Linked DNA regions of Homo sapiens: regions 2, 3, 4 and 5 are each linked to region 1. The links come from fine-mapping of genetic effects on gene expression. A gene starts in region 1. Each other region holds a variant in brackets. All regions are shown on one strand. Distances are between the middles of the regions.

Region 1 (4,119 bases):
AGAAGACTATTCTATTCTACCATGTTTACACAGAAGTCTAATGCCTTTTTTTTCCTGTCAAATCTCCTGTAAGAAGTGTCCCACTAAGTCCTAATAAGCCCACATCCTGACAGCACAGAAAAGAACCTCTTTCGGGTGAAACAAACAGCTTAAATCAGCCAAGCCCCTGGCACCCTCTCCTGAAGCAGCACTTCTCCAAAACTCATTTGCACCATTTATGGAGGAGAGAGTCTTGAGGGTGGGCCCCACCCCACTGGATCATCAAGCCCAATGGGGCCCCAGGGAACACACAGGAAGGGTCTGGAACACAGTTCCGTAAAATGCCAAACAGGCGTAAAAGGACAAACTCCCAGCACTCACAGGTCGCCAGGAACTGTCAAAGCCCTCTAACTCAGGGGTCCTCGGGGGAAGACTGCCTTCTGCCCCGCACAGAGAGGCAAGTCAGGCCACCACGGTCTTCGGGGATCAGGAGACGGCTACACACACTATCAACTAATAAATAATGTAAACGAAAGACTGGACCCAACAGTCACCTTCATTCATTACCCACTGGAAGACCAAGGAGCTCAGACACCAAATAGTTGGATTACAGGAGAGGAAAAGGAAACGCACCCACATACCCCCACAGACTTCTTCACACTCTTCTCCAGACGTTTCCCACCCACCCACCCGCAAACACACTCAGCTCCAGACTCCCACTCACTCACCCCCAGATGGCCCGCACGACGCGTGCTGGCTAACCCCCAAATCTCTACGACCCACGCTCGCTCGTCTCCAGACCCCACGAGGCACGCTCTTCTTCTCCAGGCTCTCTCGCACGCCTACTCCCCCGGACCTCCACGCAGAATCTCCCTTCCGCCACTCCAACCTGACAGTCTTCCAACACGCACAAGCACGCACAACTCCACACACACAACCCAGTCCGCACCCCCTCCCTGAGTACGAACCCCCGCCGCTCCATCCCCAAGTGACAGAGCCCCGGGGCGCAGAGAGGGCGGAAAGGGCGGCACTCACAGGCTCCGCGTCCAGGAGGGCAGGTCCCCGGGCAACGCAGCCAGCCCGCGCCCACCGCAGTCCAGCGAGTCCCCAGCGCAAGTGCAGGCGGCCGCGCAGGGCGCCCGCGGGCCGGCCGCGGCGGTCACCGGCTCCAGCCGAAGCAAAAGCAGCCAGAGAAGGAGAAGGCAAGGCGAGCGGCGCGGGGCCCCGAGCCCTCCCCGGACCGGCCGCGCCATCTTGTCTGGAGCGCGCTGCGAACTCCGGGCGCGGGGACTGTGAGGACCCGAACGGCCGCAGACGCGGGCGGGCCCGCGGGGCGCTCCGCTCGGCTCTAGACTCCGCACCGGGGCATGGCCCCCGCCCCAAGTTCTCTCTGCGGCCGCGGCTCCGGCACTCAGCGTGCCCCCGGTGCCCGGGCCGCTCCGGAGCACCCGGCGGGGGCCGCAAACCCCGCGCCCATCCGGGCCGGCCGGCCCGCCCGCGCTAGCTGCGAACTCCGCCGATTCGGGCAAGGTGTACCCAGCCTGCGCTCTTCGTCCGCCCGGGGCACGCCGAGTGCCGCTACCGACACCGGCCGAGGGCAGTGCTGCCGCTGCGCCTGGAAGACAGGCGTTCAGCCCCGCAGCCCGAGCTCGGTGCCGGCAGGCATCTTCCTCTGGGCTCGGAGCGCAAAGCCGTAGACCTCGGGCTGGACGGCGCGGCCGGCCCCGCGCTGGGAGGCCCCAGTGCGCCTCGCTGTCCCCACGCCGCGGCCAGAGAGCGCGCGCGCGCGCGCAGCCTCGGGTTCCGCACGGCTCCTCCGCGCAGCAAGAGTCCCGCCGACCTCGCAGCCGAACAATCAGCCGCTTGCTGTTCGCCTCCCCGCGGCCCAGCCCCGGCCGGTCCCCCAAGCCCCGCCCCCGGCCGCTCGCCCGCACACACCCCCTAGGCTCCGCGCTCCGCGGCCGCCTGCTGGCCCACGTTGGATGCTTTGCAACAGCGCCCCGCCACGCCTCCCCGCCTGCTGCTCATTGGCTGCCGGAGTCCACCGTGGCCAGCCTCGAGGGCCATTGGAGCGCTCGCTGTGATCCCGCCCCTCCCGCTTCACCGGCTACCCCGCCCCCACACTCTTTTCCCACCCAAGGTGTGAAGGGCGGGAGACTGGGAGGAGAAAGGGAGGGACGGCCCCCGCCTCTTAAAGGAGACACGCAGGTTGTTGTTGGAGAACGGGAACGCGGGCTGGGGAAAGGAGGCGTGAAGATACGCCCTCTGCGTCAAGAAGGGGAGAGAAAGTTAAGAGGGTAAAACGCCCCCGTTTTGGGGCTGTCTGGCCCCAAGGCTTTTTACGTCCTCCTCAGGCTGCAAGCAGGACTGCAGATTAGAAGCAAACCCGCGTCCGTTTTCCAGGTTCCTTCCAAAAGCGAAGACACAGGTTTAAAACTTAACACATTTCTTCCTGACTGGGACATCCTTGGTTATTTCATTAGGCGTGGTCCCCTTCCTCCTCGAGCAGCCTGGAGCATCTGCTCCTGACTTGTTCTTCACGTCCTAAATCCAGCAATATGTCCTTGATTACTAAAATGAATGTGTGCTGCAGAAACCTAGTCTCAAAGGTGCACCCTCGGCCAGGAGTGGTGGCTCACGCCTGTAATCCCAGCAGTTTGGCAGGCCAAGGCGGGCGGATCACCTGAGGTCAGGAATTCGAGACCAGCCTGGCCAACATGGTAAAACCCCGTCTGTACTAAAAATGAAAAATAAAAAAATTAGCCAGGTGTGGTGGTGCACACCTGTAATACCAGCTACGGGAGGCTGGGACAGGAGAGCTGCTTGAACCCCGGAGGCGGAGGCTGCAATGAGCAGAGACTTGTCACTGAATTGTCACTGAATTCCAGCCTGGGTGACAGAGCGAAACTCCGTCTCAAAAAAAAAAAAAAGTGCACTCTCCTTCCCAGCTAGTGAGTTGAAGGGTACTTCTAGAAATGCTGCAGCCTTTGATAAAGGGGTTGCTTTGTTGTTGTCATTGGGTTTTTGTTTTAATCAGAGTCTTTTTAAGATAATTTTCAAGAAGCCATTGTGTATTCGTAAGAGACAGAGTTAAAGGAGAAATAATAGTTAACAAAGCTTCTAACTTTTGCTCTTAAAGATCAGACCATAGTAGTAGTGTGTTACGATAGTACGTGGTAACATTAAGCAGACATACACACATTGAGAAAAAAAGAAAAAGATTACCACTGTAACATATAGCTGCCCTCTGGGCGTTTTGGTTTGCTAGTGTCTCATATCCCTTCCCAAGAGTATGCAAATTACTAACATAACTGCGCACATTGTCAGGAAGATTAAGCAGGTCAAGTCTGTTGAAAAACATTTGCTCCAGAACATTAAATCTGAGTTGTGTTTTATGGAAGTGGGGTGGGGTGGGAGGTAAAGAGGAGAAGTTGAACCTTAGGGAAAAAAGGCAAAAAAAAAAAAAAAATTAAAGGGTTTATTCCATTTTCGACACAATCTAAGAGGTTTGCTTTAATTGAGATGCACTAAATGTGTTAAACTTTCCCTCAGCCATAAGATCACCTCTTTTCTTTAGCCAAAATGTGATCTTCCTATCCCTTCCTCCCCTTTTTCCTTCTTCCCCTTCTGAATTCATTGCGCCTCATTTTTTTCTTGTTTAATTTTGCATGATCTCAGCAGTGATGCCCAAAGCAGTGCTCAAATATGTGGGTAAATCAATTCAAATCTAATTCCCAAGAAATATTATCAGAAAAATGCTGCACCTGACCCATCCCACCCAGAGCTTTAACCAGCTTTTATGTTTCATATGTAATCCAAATAAACATACACCTTCCATCTGGACGAGAAGAAATATGTCCTTTTGTTCTATCCCTTTTGGTAAATATAATAATAATAAGCAGTGGGAATGGAATTAAAAAGACCCTAAATTTATGAAGTCCTCTCAGTCAGTGTTTAAGTTTTACACAAAGAACACAAAACAGTAATTTGATGCAGAATACCCACAGCCGTTTCCTGAAATGAAACTGTCAGATCCTCCCTGTCCCCACCCCACAATAAAACAGCATATGCAGCAAAAAATGAATTGAACTGATTGAACTACTTGAGATGCTGACCTAAAATTATCTTTCAGGTTTGTCT
Region 2 (4,119 bases), 200 kb before region 1:
TGGATTTCTAAGCAGATTTGGGAATTACGGCATTGAAAATACTTTGTTGCTTTTTATGTCTCAATAAAGTCTATGCATTTTTATAATATTGGACCAGTGTTTGACCTGCCAGAATAAAATGATGATAGAACTCATTGTGTCCTCAAATAATTGGATTCTGAAATGGAAGATAGGGTTCATGAAGAATAAAAAATAGTAGATCTCATGTAAAGGTGAAAATTTACTTTTCTTTTTAGTATTCAACTCAAAATTGCCAGTTTCCCTGAATTTATTATAGCAATTTCTCTTGTTTTAAAATGAAGTGAAATGTGAAGTTAATTTACATACTAGCTGCTTTGAAGTGTAATTTTGCTTGCCAAGTTGTTACAGATTTTTATACAGACTTTTTAAGGAATTTAGTAATAATGCTGCCACAGTGTGTAGGACAAGTTCATGCCTTGCATCTTTGATGGGCGTTAGAATTGTTTGCCACAGTTCCCACTCTGGTTGGAGGGCACAACCAATTCGTCTATGCCTTTTGACTTCCATGCCGGAGAGTGTGACTTCTGCATCTGTTTGTTAGTATTTTTATGTAAGCAGAAGCCAAGAATGTCATTAGAAAGTAAAACTTTAACAAGAGGGACTGAATCCTACTAGGCCAACATAATTTATAGAGAGCAGGGGCTAACATTTTCATTTGGGAAAAATGCTTCCATTTCTATACGTGTTTAGACGGAGTACCTTAAGCATTGTTTTAGTCTTTTCCTATCTACATGTTACCATTCAGAACTTAGGTGGATGAAACACATTTTATATGTAGTTACAGAGAGATACAGAATTAAAAGCCTACAGATACAAGCATTAGAATTGTGACGGGGGTAATTAGAAACATGGAGTCTGAAGGTAGCCTATCTGGATTCAAATCCCAGCTCCAGTACTTAGCCATGTGGCCTTAGGCAAGTTATTTAAACTGACTTATTTTGTTCCTCTGTAAGATGAGAGTAACAATAATACCAACCTCATAAGGTTGTTGGGAAAATTACATGTGTTCCTGCATATGAAGTGCTTAGGACAGTGCCTGAAATACAGTCCTATATAAATGTTATAATTTATGATTATTGTTGTGATGATAATGATGATAATATCACTAGCAGCTCCTCTGAAACTTGTTGGCCTCATCCAAGGCCTATCACTTAGCTTTATCCCCAGTGTCTCTAATACTCCATCTGTTGTGCAGAAGTATATCCTGAACCTTCCTCCCTCTGAATTTGCCCACTTGGCACCTCTTCATTTGCTCTTACAATCTCTAGACCATAAATTTCAAAGACGTGGCCCAAAATGTTGGACTCAAGGTTTTTGCAAACTACAAGCTAACATGTTAAAATTGAGTGGTTTCATATACAACTCCAGTTATCCAAGTTTTCTTGGACAATCTGGGTATCTGGTCATAGTGGGCCTACATTTCTGCATGGCAGTAATTGTCTAGAACAGAGTAGCGGCTGCTTGTTTTGACAGAAACTGCTCTCCATGTCATCAGAGTCCCTGCCACTTCCTGTTGTTTTGACACTTTTCTCATTCTAGTCATCGATATCATTTTTTTGGGTCATGTAATACTTATTTGCTGCCAGCAGTTTAGAGTAAGCAGCGGTTCTCCAC[C/T]ATGTGTTCTGCACACTCATACTCCACTAGGCCTTTGCTGATAGGTCACCAGATTTTGATTCATGTGTAAAACATACATTAGTTAAAATCAAGTATGCATAATAGTGTTTTGGCTTTGTCTGTCAGAAGCAACATTGAGCTGGGCAGGTGTGCTTGTGTATTAGAGCTAGATACAACTTGGTGAAAAGGTTAGCCCATATTTAAGTTCAAACCAAAGAACAGTGATTAAAGCCCAAGCCAAAGAAAATTGAGATATGGGAGAGCTTTGCCTTCTGAGTGTGTAAGGGAGCACAGGTGGTGCACGCCATGTGTTCAGTGTCTCAGTGCTAGGGAGTCAGCAGGGATAAAGAAAGATAACTGATGCCTTAGAGCAGAGTTTAAGGGGCTGTGGATTGTGTCCATGGGGACCCCCCTTTGCATTCCAGGCTGTGTAGCAGCATCCCTGGCCTCTACCCACTAGATACCAGGAGCACCTCCCGTGAGTAGTGACAATTTAAATGTCCCCTGGGAGGTTGAAAGATGCAGAAGACATTATAATATAGTAGTTATCATGGTCTAGTCACTGTTGACATCTTTAATACTGCTTTTAGTCTTTGAATCCTTTGAAATATTGGCTTTGTACTCCACTTTTCTAAAGCATTCAGTATTTATTTTATGGCCATTTTACTACAGTATCAGAGAGGAGATATACTTCTCTCCCCCTCTCTAGTCAAGCACAACTGCAAGTATCTTTAAGGCGCAGCCACCTTTAAGGAAAGACTTCTGGGAACAGCTAACTGTGTTGGAGGAACTGGGCTGTGGCTCGTCCTCTGCTGCTCGTTAGCCCTGTGAACCTGGGGAGGCTAGCTCCCTCTCTTAGTCTTGGCTAAAAGTGAGGTGGCTGGATCAGATAATCAGCAAGATGCCTTCCAGGTAAGATTAGGCTGTAAGTCAGAAAATATTGTAGGACTTCTGAAACTTTAACTGCCAGTCAAGATCACTTAACTAGAATGTCCCACATTTTTCACTCCATTGAAATGAGTAACTTCAAGTGTCATGTAACATCAGGATCACTTAGGGGAATGTCTAGAGGTGCAGTAGATGATTGTTAGCTTTCTGTTGCTGTGTAATGAATTACCACAACTTTAGTGGTTTAAGGTGACATATATTGATGATCTCATGGGTCTCTACAGCAGCAGTCTGAGGACCGCGTGGCTGAGTTCTCCATTCACTGTTTCACACAGTGACAGTCAAGGTGTTGCAGGGACTGTGATCTCATCTGAGGCTAGGGTCCTCTTCCAAATGCACAGGGCGGTTGGCAGATGGCATTTCCTTGTGGCAGTATGACTGAGGATCCTGTTTCTTGTTAGCGATTGGATGGTGACCACACTTTACTTCCAGAGGCTGCTCTGAGGTCCTTGCCATGTGGCCCCCTCCATAGGCCCTTTTACAACATGAAATTTTATTTCTTCAGAGCCAGCAGGAGAATCTCTCACACTTCAGATCTTGTTAGGAAGGGGCTGGTTTTTCTAAGAACTCACCTTTGAAGTCAAGCCCATCCACGATAATTTCCCTCTTGATAAACTCAGAACCAACTGATGGGGGAACTTAATTAAATCTGCAGAATCCATTCATATTTCTGATTAAATGTAACTTCGTCACAGGACTTGTCTTTGTCCTGTTCACGGTCCCATCCACACTGGATGGGGGAGGATTATACAGGGCGGGTACATCAGGGAGTGGGAATCTTGGGGGCCTCCCACAATGCCTCTTGATTTAAAAAGATTCTGGAGCATACTTTTTCTTATGTCTCATATCTAAGCTAATATCTTCCCTTTTCTGTTCAGTTTCAGTTTTGTGTTCACATGTCTGTTGTCATATTTTTTCTTCTATTTTTGCAGGAGGAGGATTAGAGTCAAAGGTGTGGGGAGGCTTGTGAGCTTCTGTGAGTTGTTGTGTGTGGCTTGTATACATGCTGTTATACTGGTAAGCTCTGTAACAACCCCTGATTGCTGAACATGCTAACTGGGATATACGCTACATGGTTCACTGGTGCTTTCAGGAAACCATCGAGGTGTCAGGCATTGAGGATTCGTTGTTCACTAATACATTCTTTAAAATGCTTTTAGAATCATTATATCCAGTTTCCTTTCTCTCTGTACATGGGACTGATTAACCACCATGTGGGTGGAAATCTAATTTGTTGCTGGCTCAGAACTTTGCAATTTTCAATACTTTGCAGAATTATCCTGTTTACCAAATGAATTGTGATAAAAATTGATACATTAGTATTAAGAGGATGACTTATAACATGTACTATGATTTATAGGGCCAAAAAGACCTGATAAACTCACAACCATTTTACCCCATAATGTTAAGAAACTCAAAAGATTTTGTCACCAAAAAGTGTATCTTGTGATTTATTTTTTATGACACGGTAGTATCACTTGTTAGAGTTCTGAGATTCTTTATTAGCAACTGACAGTTTTCTAGGAACTGAATTTT
Region 3 (4,119 bases), 110 kb before region 1:
ATTTTTATGATATATAAATTATATTTCTTTTTAAAAGCAGCTTTATTGAGAATACTTCATCTACACTACAACTCACTCATCTAAAGTATACAATTCAATGGTTTTTAGTATACTCACCAATATGGGCAACCATCACTACAGTCAATTTTACAACATTTTCATCACTTCAAAAAGAAATGCTGTACATTTTAGCTATTACCCCTCTCTTTCCATCCCTCCCCATCCTTAAACTACTACTAACCTAATCTCTACCTCCACAGATTTCCCCATTCTGGACATTTCTATGAATGGAATCATATAATCTAATGGTCTTTTGTGGCTGACTTCTTCCACTTAGCATGACATTGTCAAAGTTCATTCATGTTGCAGGACTACTGATTGCTTTCACAGCCTAATGAATATTCCATTGTATGGCTATACCACCTTTTGTTTATCCAGTCATCCACTGATACCTGGGTTGTGCCCATATTTTGGCCATTATGAATAATGCTGCTATGAACATTCATGAAGAAGTTTCTGTGTGAACATATACATTCATTTCTCTTAGGTATACACCCAAGAGTGGAACTGCCAGGTCATGTCGTAACTGGATGTTGAACTGAGGAACTGCCGAGACTGTTTTCCAAAGTGGCTGCCCCAGTTTACACTCCCACCAGCAGTGTAGGAGGGTTCTCCCTATCCTCAGCAACACTTGTTATTATCTGAGTTTTGGATTCTAGCTGTCCTAGTGGATGTGGAGTGCTTATGTTTCCGTTTTTAAAAAAGGAGTGGGAGACTCCCATAAAGCCTGAAACCTTGATCTTCTGCCAAGTGTTTTCATGATTCCCATTAACACCTGACGTTTTTAGAGGGGGGGAAGCTTGAGCTAAAATGTGGGGGTGGGGATGACAGATGTGAAATAAACAACTCTTGCAATCCAGAATATGCCAGGGCCACAGGCTGGGGGCTAGGTGAACTTACCAAAGTCCTACCTGGCTCACCCAGAGGGAAAGCCTGCCCTATGGCAGGAAAGGGGAGGGAGCGATGGAAAGCTTTATTTGAGGGAGGTCTATAAACAATTTAAGGGTCAAGGACTTGATGACAATGGGCCAATGAACAATGGATTATACAGCCATTTTGTGCCTGGATAATGGAGCTGTGCGAGCATTAGATTCCACACAGAAGGCTCCATAAGACAGATCGGTATGAAAAGTCAGTTTGGAGAGCTGCTGCCATGTTCGCAGTGGGTTTAAGACGTGTCCCTGGTCTGGATCCAGAGGAAGTTCAGCAGGCCTGTTCTCAAAAGTGGTGATGGTGAAGGTAGGGGTGGATGCATGGAGAGGGCACACACATCTTGCCTCCAGCAGGCACACTGGCTACTCCAGCAGGCACAATGGCTATTGCTATGGCCAGAAAGTAGGAGACAGAAGTGGCCCACAAGGGTTGCCATATGGATGGGTGAGTTCCTGGTTAGGATCCTCACAGCAGGGATCTCAAGGCTCAAGGGAGACCAGTGAGCACAAAAGGCAGGAGGGACTTAACACCTGCCCAGCAGTTCCAGTCAGGCCTGGGAATCCCACTCTTGCTCCTGCTTAGAGCAAGCAAACAGGAAAAACTCAAAATTCATCTCATTTTTTGACCATGTCTTCCTGACCGTGAGCCTGTGTCAGTCCTGTCTGAGCTAGCCTGCGTGTGTGTTTTCAGCTGTTCAGCATTTTCTGTGCTCTCTGCAACCAAACTTGGATCCCGACTCCCAGTCAAAAAGATGGCAAGAGCTACGCTCCAGGAATCAGAAGGCAAAAAGAATGTAAAGCTGCAAGTGCAGATTTCAGTGGTTTGGAGAAACAGCAAGAGTACAAGTCAACATCAAGGAATTATTTTTACTACAGCAACTGTTCTCCTGAGACTTGTTCTTCCTGTATTTAACCTTTCATTCTTGGGGTCGGAAAGAAACACACATTAAAACGCCAGCCTCGTACGCGGAGTACATTCGCAGCTAAACCCGGGCACCAGAGCCCTTCTGAAACAACAGAACTATCTTCCTGTAACTGATTATTCTGATTTGTAACTGAACCAACTTATACTCCCTTCTGATTAAATGCATGTCCTCCAAGAACCACATAATGAGGCAACTCTACGGTAAATACTGTGTGTGGTTTCAGCAAGAAATAAATTGCATCCAGCAGCTGATCTGTAACCACGGGCTGGGGTTTACTCTGATCACAGGAATTACTCCCATAATGAAGAGTACCTCCTGGCTTCCTTGTCCTTCATGAAGGAGAGAAAAAGTTACAAAGACAGTCTTACCGCACACGAAACTCTCTGGTGGCACAGAGAAAATGCTCTGACCCTTCAGTGATTCTGGGTGGGCACAGGTGGCTGTCACAAAGGCCTGCAGCATCCTGCCAATTAGCCACGGGGGCAGCCACTTCAGCTGGCAGTCACACAGGAAGCTGTC[G/A]CTGCTGATATGGCTGAAAGAAACACAACAGTGGATGCTTCAGGTGCAGCCGCAAAGGAGGGACACTCCCTTCACACACACAATGATCAGTCGCCTCCAATCAGCTTCTCAAGTGAACATCAGCAAGCTGGAAGGGGGAAATGGTTTTTCTCACACTTCCTCTCCAATTTCCCAGGGCAGTGCATATAACCCACCTGGAGATTTTGAAAAAATGCAGTTGCTGATTGGGTGGGTCAGGAGTGGAACCCACGACTCTGCTAACAAGTTCACGTATCATGCTGGGGCTGCTGACCCAAGGACCGCAACTGGAGCAGCAGCAACGTGGAGCTTATCCATGCCATGTTCTGGGACAGACACTGTTCCTGTGTGACCCTGGGCTGCCTTCTGACCTCTCCTGACCTCTGATACATCCAACAGTGCTATGCTGCCACCATCCCCCCTCTGGTTTTTCCCACTTTCCTGATAAACTACTTGGAGCTTCCAAACTCGGCCTGAGACTTTGATCCAAATTCTGCAACAAGTTCCGAGGAGGGCTCTTTTGCCTCATGGCTGTTCCTTTTCCATTTGGCAAAGCTGCATGTTTTCTTACTTCCAAATGTAATAAGCCCCGTCACTGTGCCACCCTCTTGTTTGTGCCTTGATCTTTGCACCAGTATTCTTCAGGGGGCCGGCAGAATTCGGCTCTGCTCCCTAAATAGTGCTTGTTAGTTAATTGCCACTGCCCAGGGAGCATGAGAATGCACAACTTTAGCTTTGTGGGGCTCCAACCAAAACAGAGAATATTTTCTTTTTCATTTCTCAGCAACTAAGGATAAGCTTTTTAAACAGAAATCGGAATCGCCATCTCAGCGGACATTCCTTCCTGAGGAGTCACTTGAAGATAAGTCAACCAAGAGTCTAGCTGCCTTGTTCCTGGAAGACCTCAGAGCTGTGAGCTAAAGAATGATGGCTGGCCCACGATAAGGGAAGACTGGGAAAGAGAGCACACAGGCTTCCCTGCAATACACTGTCTCTGGTACATGGTGACAAACAGGAGGCACAGGTATGCGCAGAAATTCCAAAAACATCATGCAGGCCAAGAGCACGACTTTGGCTGCCTTCTCCACCCACCACTGTCCTCAGACATCAACAAAGCAACCAAATGGACTGGCCTTCCATTTTCTTCTGTTTCTCTCCAGATTTCTAATGAGCAGAGAAACTGTCACAGCAAGGAAGAATGAAGTGTAAGCAGATGACCCAAGGCTAAATTAAGTAAAATCCACTCTTCCTCATGTTCCCCATCACCCCTAGATGAGTTGGGCATCTTATTAAAATAATTATAATTTTGGAAAGTGCTTTTCCAAAAACAGAAATAACTTATCTCAAGGCCATTATAACTGGGATGCTGGCCCATATTAGATCTTAAAATCAGCATGAGAGTTTGCATTTTTATTTCACGGGCAGGTAGCGTTCTGCTGAGAGCCATCTGGAGGGCTGTCCTACTGTGGAGTCACTGCAGGTGGCGGAAGGGCTGTAACGGCCATCCCTGAGGAAATGGTCAATTCCCATGCAGTGTTTGGGGAGGGCAGCTCCCAGGAGTGCACCCTGCATGGGGGTCAGGGCTGGCTGCGCCAGGCATGGGGGGAACTCAGCCTGGATGGAGAACTCTCCGCTGTCAGAAGCACCTCCAGCTCCCCAGCAAG
Region 4 (4,119 bases), 120 kb before region 1:
CTCAGTGACAAGAAATGCAGACACACGTTCACTGTCAAGCTCAGAAAGGGGATCCTCCCAGTGACGACCATCAGCGCTGTGCAGAGAGATGACATGGAGTCCATGTACGCAACAGGCCCTCCCAGAGCCTGCTCAGCTTTACTCTACACCCAGCGTGAAGAGCGCAGCCAGCAGATGCCAGACGCCACAAGAAGTGGAGACCAGTGATGGAAAGCCGGGGCTCACAGAAGTACCGCACTGTTTCAGGAACAACCTACTACGTGGCAGCAGGGCCTGTGCATAGGCGGCCTCTGAGTTAGCAAGGAGAGGGAAAACTGCATGGTGCGTCAGTTACTTGTATTTGTGAGTATTCCTGTTTAAGGTTAAATTTGAGAGTATTCCTGTTTAAGGTTAAGTTCCTCAAAGTTAAAATGGAATTAGTGGGACTAAACCCTCAGGAGTTCTGAACACAGTGCAATTCTTTCAAAAGCCACTGGAACCCGGCCCAGTTCCCCAGCATCACTGCCATTCCTCCCTCCTTGAAAGTCAGCTCCGCTGGCAGGGCCTGACCTGTGTTGGTGACACTGTACTCTTCACTCTTCTTCCTGGTCTGGTAGATGATGCACACCCAGACCAGTGACGTCAGGACGATGCTGCTCACGACAGCAATGGTGAAGATGCCTACCGTGGTCCCATCCTTCCTGCAGCCTGCTGCGGGCAGGACGCTCAGCTGGCTGTGAGCTCGCTCCGTGCCCAGGGTGTTGGACATCTCACAGGTATATCGGCCCGCATCCTCTGCCACCACGTTCTGAACCACCAGGAGCTGGTTGTCAGGGGTCAAGTGGTGCCGCTCAGTGAGGCTCAGCGGGCGGTCCCCCTTGAACCAGGTGATGCGGGGCGGAGGGTTCCCCGTGGCTTTGCATTGGAGGGCCACTGTTTCTCCCACAGATACCACACGGTCTTCCAAGGGGACCACCAAGGATGGGGTCTCTACAAGAGAGCAACAGAGATCTTAGTCATTCTCAGGGCCTCCGTTGCTCTGGCTCTGCCCGGTCTTCTGGACAACGGACAATCCAACATATCAATGAGATGCATCTGAGATTCTGTCTCAGAGTGGCAAGCTTTGGAGAAGACCCTTCAACTCATTGACTGAGTCATCTCCATGCTGGGAGTGGCTTCCACAGGGACAGTGAACCTCTGCTGACAAAAGCCCCTGCTATTCCCTAACTGTCCTGTGTCAGGCCTGTGTCCTTATTCTTGACCAAGCCCACATCCATCCTGTCCAATTCTTAAAATGTTCTGTAGCTCTTGACCAAGCCCACATCCATCCTGTCCAATTCTTAAAATGTTCTGTAGCTAAACCCTATGAAGACTCTTAATTCACCAGCTATCATTTCTTTTAAAGAGATAGAAACACTTGTTTAAGAAAAATTAACTCAACTCAAAAAGCAGCCCCAAATTTCAAACAGGGTCGAAAGGCCCACAACGCATACCACCCCTGGCCACACAGAGCATTTGAGAGTCTCTCTCTCTCGCTCACACACACACACACACACACACAGTAGAGCAATAGGCAAACCTAGGACAGTCAGGGTGGCATTAGCTGAAATAGAACCGGCTGAGTTCTGAGCAGTACAGCTGTAAACCCCTGCGTCATCTATTTTCACATCAGTGATGAAAAACACGTCGTCATCCGGCATGACATGCATGCGTCGCTCACGGGCAGCGGGGAAATCCGTGCCTCCATCCTTCTGCCAGGCAATCTGAGGGTTTGGGTGACCTGTGGCAGCACATTCGAGGCGGGCCATGGTGGTGGTCCGGATGGTTATGTC[G/A]TGGGGCGTTTTGGTGAATGATGGCAACACTGGAAAACATACGTATACAGGGTCGGGTTACGGGACAGCTAGATGCAAAACCAGGAAGTCCTCTGGCAAACACCTACCTGTCACTGTGCCCAGTGCCAGTTCACTTCTTTTCTCCCAATGTCTGCCCAGGACCACTCCTGCCACCTGTGAATCAGGAACCCCCAGCTTCTCCCACCACAGTTGGAACACTTCCATCCCATCAGCCTTGCATTGTACACCCTAGGCTGGCTATAGTCCCTTCAAAGCAAAGGCTTTTACTCTACATGGCAGTGCCTATACGGGAGTTGCAGGGGGTGCCCATCCACACTAGGTAGGCCTGATGCTTGCCTGCTTTACCCACCAAGAGAGAGGCTGTGGAGATGGAATTACAGAGGGAAGGTGGGCATGCCTCCACCTTGGGAGAGCAATGGGATGGCTCATCCGTTTGGATGGGTGTTCATGGGATGAATGGGATGGCTCATCCATTTGGATGGTTGTTCACCCAGGCTGTTCCTGCCCACTGCCGTATACCCAGGCAGGAAGCATTCAGCTTGCTAGCTTGCTCAGCCTAAAGATCGATGTCCTGACAGAGTGGGACGCATCCAGCCACGTGTCAGGCACCACCAGAGTTCCTGTCAACGTCAATTTTGGGGAGAGTCTAACAAACAGCTGAGTCTTTCGGAAGCTGTGAGGACTTGGAATAAGCCAAGACAACCCCACTACAGTGTGGTAAAGAAGGTGTTTCGCTGTGATCTGTGGGGGCTTAAAGAGCAAAGCAGATCCACCATTCTGATGATTCTCAAGCCAATTCTTTTTAACTAGAGAGTTAGTAATCAGGATAACCCCATTAGGTTACTGGGGTGGGACAGTAAACTCTTCAAGCTATCTACTCCCCACCCCCCTCCTCCAAACACACAATAACACATGGTCCCCTTGACAAGCTCCAAGGCTGGTTAATGAGTAAAAACCTGTCAACTGCCAGGACACTGTGTCTTTCAGGCCAGGGCTCACACCAGCCTTGCACTCCACAGTCTCTGGAGCAGTAGCTAGCCTCTGACTCCAATGCTGTGCCATCTACTCAAAGAACAGCAGCTTCCCCAGGCTAAGGGGTATTTGGAATTTGGAAGCCAGATCTCTTGGCTTATAGAGGATAAGAACTGGACAAAACAAGGCTTAGCTCTCCACAATTTGACTTAATAACTAGTTTTTGTTTTGTTTTTGAGACAGTCTCACTTTGACACCCAGGCTGGAATGCAGTGGAGTGATCTCGGCTCACTGCAACGTCCACCTCCTGGGTTCAAGCAATTCTTGTGCCTCAGCCTCCCAAGTAGCTGGGATTACAGGCATGTGCCACCACACCTGGCTAATTTTTGTATTTTTAGTAGAGACGGGGTTTCACTATGTTGGCCACACTAGTCTCGAACTCCTGGCTTCAAGTGATCTGCCCACCTCAGTCTCCCAACTGCTGGGATTACAGGCATGAGCCACAGCACCCGGCCAATAACTAGATTTTTAAAACTCACCAAAAACAAGTAACTCATTGTGAATAACCCTTGAAATCTGCAAAACTTGCTCTGGGGCAAACCCAGGCAACAATAGGATTTAACAGTGCCCCACAGAAGCATGTGTGTGTCCTGTCTCAGTCATCTCTACATGGAAAGCTGAAAGGGCAATCAGGAGTGTGCTTTGTAGGATTCTGGTACTATAACAAAGATGGTGTTTCCATACCATTCACGGTGAGCCTGGCCTTATGTGAATAGGTGGAGCCAAAGTGGTTGGTGATGACACATTGGTAGCGGCCCTCGTGCCCGAAAGTGACCTGACGGAGGTGCAGGATGGTGGTGTACTCCATCACTTCCCCGTCCTGCGCGTGGACGTGGACAAAGTTCTCCATGTCTGCATTGGTCAGGACTTCATTGTCTTTCTTCCAGGCAAAGGTCATGGGGGAGCTGCTGCTGCTGGCTGCTGAGCATGTAAACCGGATGTCCTTGCCCACCATAGCCATGGTGGTTTCTGGCTGGGTGATGATCTGTGGCTTCAGGAAGTCATCTGGGGAGAGAAGGGTCAACTGTAAAGCGCTGGGTTCTTGGTACACAGAGGAACCAGCTGCTGTTCATGCTAACAGAAACTGACACAGACACCAAGCAGGAACCAGAGCTTGAGGTCCCTGTGCATCCTCAGCCCCACCAACCAGATGCCGTAAGAGTTGCACCATGGACATCTGACCTCATCTAATTAGAAGTCTGTGAGTACTGATCACCTTTATGATCACACTCCTTGATTAGAAATTAACCCACCA
Region 5 (4,119 bases), 87 kb before region 1:
TCAGGAGAGAGGGGCTGGGCACTGGTGCCCCACTCCATGCCCAGTGCACAGCTGAATGCTGGTGTGGGCGCGCACGTGCACACGCGCACGCACACACACCCCACACCACACAGCAATGCTGGTGTGGGCGCACACACCCAACACACAGCAACGTTGGTGTTGGTGCGCACATGCATGCGCACACACACACACGCCACATCACACCACACCGCACAGCAATCCTTAGCAATGCCAGTAACCTGGTCCGCACTTACAGCACATGCATCTTGGACAGTCCCCAGAAGGCCCCATCTGTCAGTTTGCTGATGTTGTTTCGCTGAAGCTTCAGCACCTCCAAGCTGTTGAGCCCCTGGAAGGTGAGGCCCTCTATCAGCCGAATCCTGTTCCGATTGAGGTCCCTAAAGAGATGAAGCCAGCAGGGTCAGAGTGTCTTATGTGCATATCCCACCCACAACCATTCTGAAGCAGTCCTGGCTAAGTTTCCAAGCCAGAGGAGAAATCCCAGTGCAGGGATCCCTGGGAAGCCAGGATGTGTAGGGGAGCCCACCATGTGTCTCGGCTGCCATGCAGGCACTGATGCTGCCACCTGACCACACCTAGTGCAGGCAAGAGGGGTGAGTGAGGCCAGCTCTCCACAGCCAGCTCCGAGGCTGGCCCACAGCTGCACAGAAGAGAACGCGTGTGTGCTCACGTCTCCTCCCCCAGTAGCACCAGTGCCATTTGTGACTCTGCAGTGAGGACGTGGGTATGACTCAAGGGGTGAATGTCTTATGTGAGGTATCTCTGAGCTCAGCAACAGAAATCCACACCACATGCCTCAACCCAGGAAAAACCAAACCACTATGTATCAAATGGCAATAACACTTTCCACTGGGGGCATTTCACAGCATCTCCACTATGGAGAGAAGTTACTGCACATGGGGGCAGGGGGAGATGGGGTAGAGACACCCCACAAGTCATATACACTTGGCTTCTAGCCCCAGTATGACAAAGCCTCAGTTCACCAAAAGATGTCAGGAATCTGGGTGGGCCAGATCCATTAGCACCCCTGCGGGAAGGGGAGGCAGAGCAGCCAGAAAGCCCTTGGTTTTCCCCAAATATTTCTGCAGTGTCTCATGATGCTGCCCCACACAAACCTTCTCAGGAATCACTGAGACCTTCTCCACAGACTGAAAATGGCAAAGTCTAGGACTCCCCACCCAGGGGAGGTGAAACCCAGGTAGGATGAGAGCCAGGCACACCCCGTCGTGCCGCCAACCTGGCCCTCGACAATTATTTTGTTTTGTTGAAACAAAATTTCCAATACTGTCTTATTTTCCTGAAATACATTCTTCTGCTAAAAAGAGGGCACAGGAAAAAAAAAAATCAGGGAAAAAAAGTCCTTCGTCAGGCTCTGGTTAACAGAGCTTTACTTGAATCTAAAACTCTGCCTTCTAGAAGGGTACTCAGCCTTCCATCAGTAAACTAAACAATTAAATTGTTTACAAAAATAATAAATCGGCCGGGTGCGGTGGCTCATGCCTGTAATCCCAGCACTTTGGGAGGCCAAGGCAGGCGGATCACGAGGTCAGGAGATCGAGACCATCCTGGGTAACAAGGTGAAACCCCATCTCTACTAAAAATACAAAAAATTAGCCAGGCATGGTGGTGGGTGCCTGTAGTCCCAGCTGCTCTGGAGGCTGAGGCAGGAGAATGG[T/C]GTGAACCCCGGGGGCGGAGCTTGCAGTGAGCTGAGATCACACCACTGCACCCCACCTGGGGGACAGAGCGAGACTGTCGCAAAAAAAAATAATAATAAATAAATAAATAATAATAATAATAAATCAACTACCTTGTAAGATTAAAGATATGAAGACAAAGGCTTGTCTTTTGCTTACTAACTCCAGCTACACTAACTTCCTCTCAAACTGTTCAAGAAGTGTCGGACACCACCATGTCCAAGGTACAGATTTTACGGGTATCTTAAAAAAATACAGAAAAACATCTAAGATAAATAAGAACCCAAACCCATGCAGCCTCAGCATTAGCCAGCATCAGCTAAGCAGCAGGACTCCTGATTCCATTTTGGAAAACATCAGGGAAGAAAAGCGACCTCAGTGGATGTCTTTCTCAGCAACCTGAAGCAGCCACAGCACCAGACCCAGCTCCGAATTTGCTTTTATGAGGTGCTGCCATTAATGGTAATTTATGGAGAGCTTTACCAAATGGAGCAAGGAAAGGGTGGCGTTTGGTACGAGGTCCTTGGGGAAATCTGGCCTCCATAAAGTTTGGCTAGCCTTAATTAAAGTGTAGGTTTCTGTACTCACAGTTGTGTCAGCCTGGGTAGCTTGAATGCTCTTACAGGAAGCTGGGTGATCCTGTTTTTGCTCAGGCGAAGAGTTAGCAGCGACCGTGACAGACCATCAAATGCTCCCAACTCCAGGGTGCCAATCCGATTGCCTGCCAGGTTGCTGGAATGATTCAGAAAAGAAAATGTGGTGGTTGGTCAAAGGCCTTCCTCATTTCATTATAGACACCAGACCTCTCTGGGTCTGAGTTGGGAAGATGAGTTAAGACACCAGAGGGACAGGTTTCCAGTGAGATGTTTATCAGCCACAGGCTTTGGATGGGGAGCTAGAGAGATGCAGGTGTTAGGACTGTGCACCTAAGCCCTGAGGGCAAGGCCGATTTAGTCGAAAGCATACTGTCCTTGAAGCTGCTGGGCCACCCCAAGAGGGTGGGAGTGAAAGTCAAACACCCCCATGCCCACTGACACACCAGCCCTGCGTCAGGAGCCACCTGCAGGACTCTTCTCACCACCCAGTGCCCAAGGTTGACGTGAAAACTCCTAGAAAGCAGAAAATCAACTGAAAGGCAAGGTCAGTGTTAATTTAATAATTTAGAGAAATAGCCTTTAGTTTTGAGGTGGGTCTTGCTATATGAACTACATAACACATATGTATAAACCAATTCATTTCTGTAATTGTAAATGCCTCAAAGAAACACTCTAGCTGAAGAGACCTGTGCAGAATCCCTTCGTAAAACAAGCAATATGTCATGGTACCTACACTTACAGCGTGATTAAGTCGGGGCATCTCCCGTGACAATACAAAAAGGCAGACACCGCTTCTCAAAAGGCACAGAAGTCTGCAGCTCAGATCTGTGCATCTTGCTGTATGCAAATTATATCAAGTAATAAAAAAGAAAAGAAAGTACAAGGAAGAACAATATGGCATTCCTGTGAGAAGTGGTTTCCAACACCTCTCCTCTGCCTTCCCCAAACAAATGCTGCTTTTTCTGGCCTAAGTGAAAAGGAGAAAGACCAGAGAGGATTTTCTGCCACAGAGGGTGGAAGGGAGCAAGGCACTTTTTGTCTCTCCAGCAGATAGTGGCCTAGGACAAGGCACATAAGGATTCTTTGCAAATGGGGCTGGACTGTTTGTTCTCAACACCTCAGATTAAAGAACAGCCTGTGTGATGAAGATATATCACCCAATAGCTGCCAAAATAGAAAGTCCCTCCCACTTTTGTGCAGGGAGAGGTCAGAGCAACTTAGTGTAGCAGTTATGGTTTCTCTGTCCCAAGCAAAGTGGTGTCACGTGGACACCTTTTGAGGGCCCACACTGGAGGCTTCACAAAAGCCAAGGCCTCCTGTTCCCAACTCTGGCGCCCTAATGCAGGCTAAGAAAGAAATCACTCTTCTTCTTGCAGTATTTACTTGGAAAATCCATGTGCCAAACCTCACCCTCCCTGAAAAGATGGGTCACAATGACCCCTAAACCAGCCTTGCGAATGCGTTCCAAAGTTAACTCTGGAACAGTAATGACACACGGAATGAAAACTCACCTGGAATTGGAAAACGTCTCTTTAGCCTGGGGTTGCAGTTTCTTTCCCAGAGTAACACTTTTCCTACCAACAAGTAGTTGATTAAGTAGGTTTTAACTTTTTTTCCTTCCTGTCTACCATCCATTGTGTGTGAGATGGGACATTAATATGGGTAAGAGAAACAGACAAATCTAAAAGGTGCTGAAAACCCACATAATAGAGTAACTGCCCTCCCCCAAACAAACCCAATGACTTGTTTTACAGTGCATGACACTAGAAAGATAAGCACTGATAAGCTAAGCCCTGTTAGACAGGCTT

What was found. PIP is the estimated chance that this variant, and not a neighbour inherited with it, causes the effect.
Region 2: its variant is fine-mapped to the expression of LRIG1 in whole blood (TOPMed, PIP above 0.99).
Region 3: its variant is fine-mapped to the expression of LRIG1 in whole blood (TOPMed, PIP above 0.99). The same link has a PIP of 0.9 or more in T cells.
Region 4: its variant is fine-mapped to the expression of LRIG1 in whole blood (TOPMed, PIP above 0.99). The same link has a PIP of 0.9 or more in lung and microglia.
Region 5: its variant is fine-mapped to the expression of LRIG1 in whole blood (TOPMed, PIP 0.97).

The regions. Positions count from the first base shown.
Region 1 is chr3:66,499,176-66,503,294 of GRCh38, forward strand. LRIG1 (leucine rich repeats and immunoglobulin like domains 1) reads right to left here and starts at 1,847. Exons shown (of 19, transcript NM_015541.3): 1 at 1,015-1,847. The coding sequence starts at 1,232. RefSeq lists enhancers at 943-1,443, 1,444-1,944 and silencers at 1,047-1,256, 1,277-1,356, 1,397-1,536, 1,557-2,216.
Region 2 is chr3:66,300,938-66,305,056 of GRCh38, forward strand. All of the region lies in intron 5 of SLC25A26 (solute carrier family 25 member 26), which reads left to right. Among named protein-coding and RNA genes, the nearest start is that of SLC25A26, 82 kb to the left of the region's middle. The variant C/T (reference allele first, on the strand shown) is at 1,636.
Region 3 is chr3:66,391,754-66,395,872 of GRCh38, forward strand. It overlaps LRIG1 (leucine rich repeats and immunoglobulin like domains 1), which reads right to left. Exons shown (of 19, transcript NM_015541.3): 12 at 2,287-2,450. Among named protein-coding and RNA genes, the nearest start is that of LRIG1, 110 kb to the right of the region's middle. RefSeq lists an enhancer at 1,855-1,904. The variant G/A (reference allele first, on the strand shown) is at 2,438.
Region 4 is chr3:66,382,433-66,386,551 of GRCh38, forward strand. LRIG1 (leucine rich repeats and immunoglobulin like domains 1) reads right to left here. Exons shown (of 19, transcript NM_015541.3): 13 at 3,549-3,869; 14 at 1,559-1,840; 15 at 550-969. Among named protein-coding and RNA genes, the nearest start is that of LRIG1, 120 kb to the right of the region's middle. RefSeq lists enhancers at 263-764, 765-1,264, 3,711-3,810. The variant G/A (reference allele first, on the strand shown) is at 1,812.
Region 5 is chr3:66,412,617-66,416,735 of GRCh38, forward strand. It overlaps LRIG1 (leucine rich repeats and immunoglobulin like domains 1), which reads right to left. Exons shown (of 19, transcript NM_015541.3): 5 at 2,304-2,447; 6 at 255-398. Among named protein-coding and RNA genes, the nearest start is that of LRIG1, 86 kb to the right of the region's middle. The variant T/C (reference allele first, on the strand shown) is at 1,697.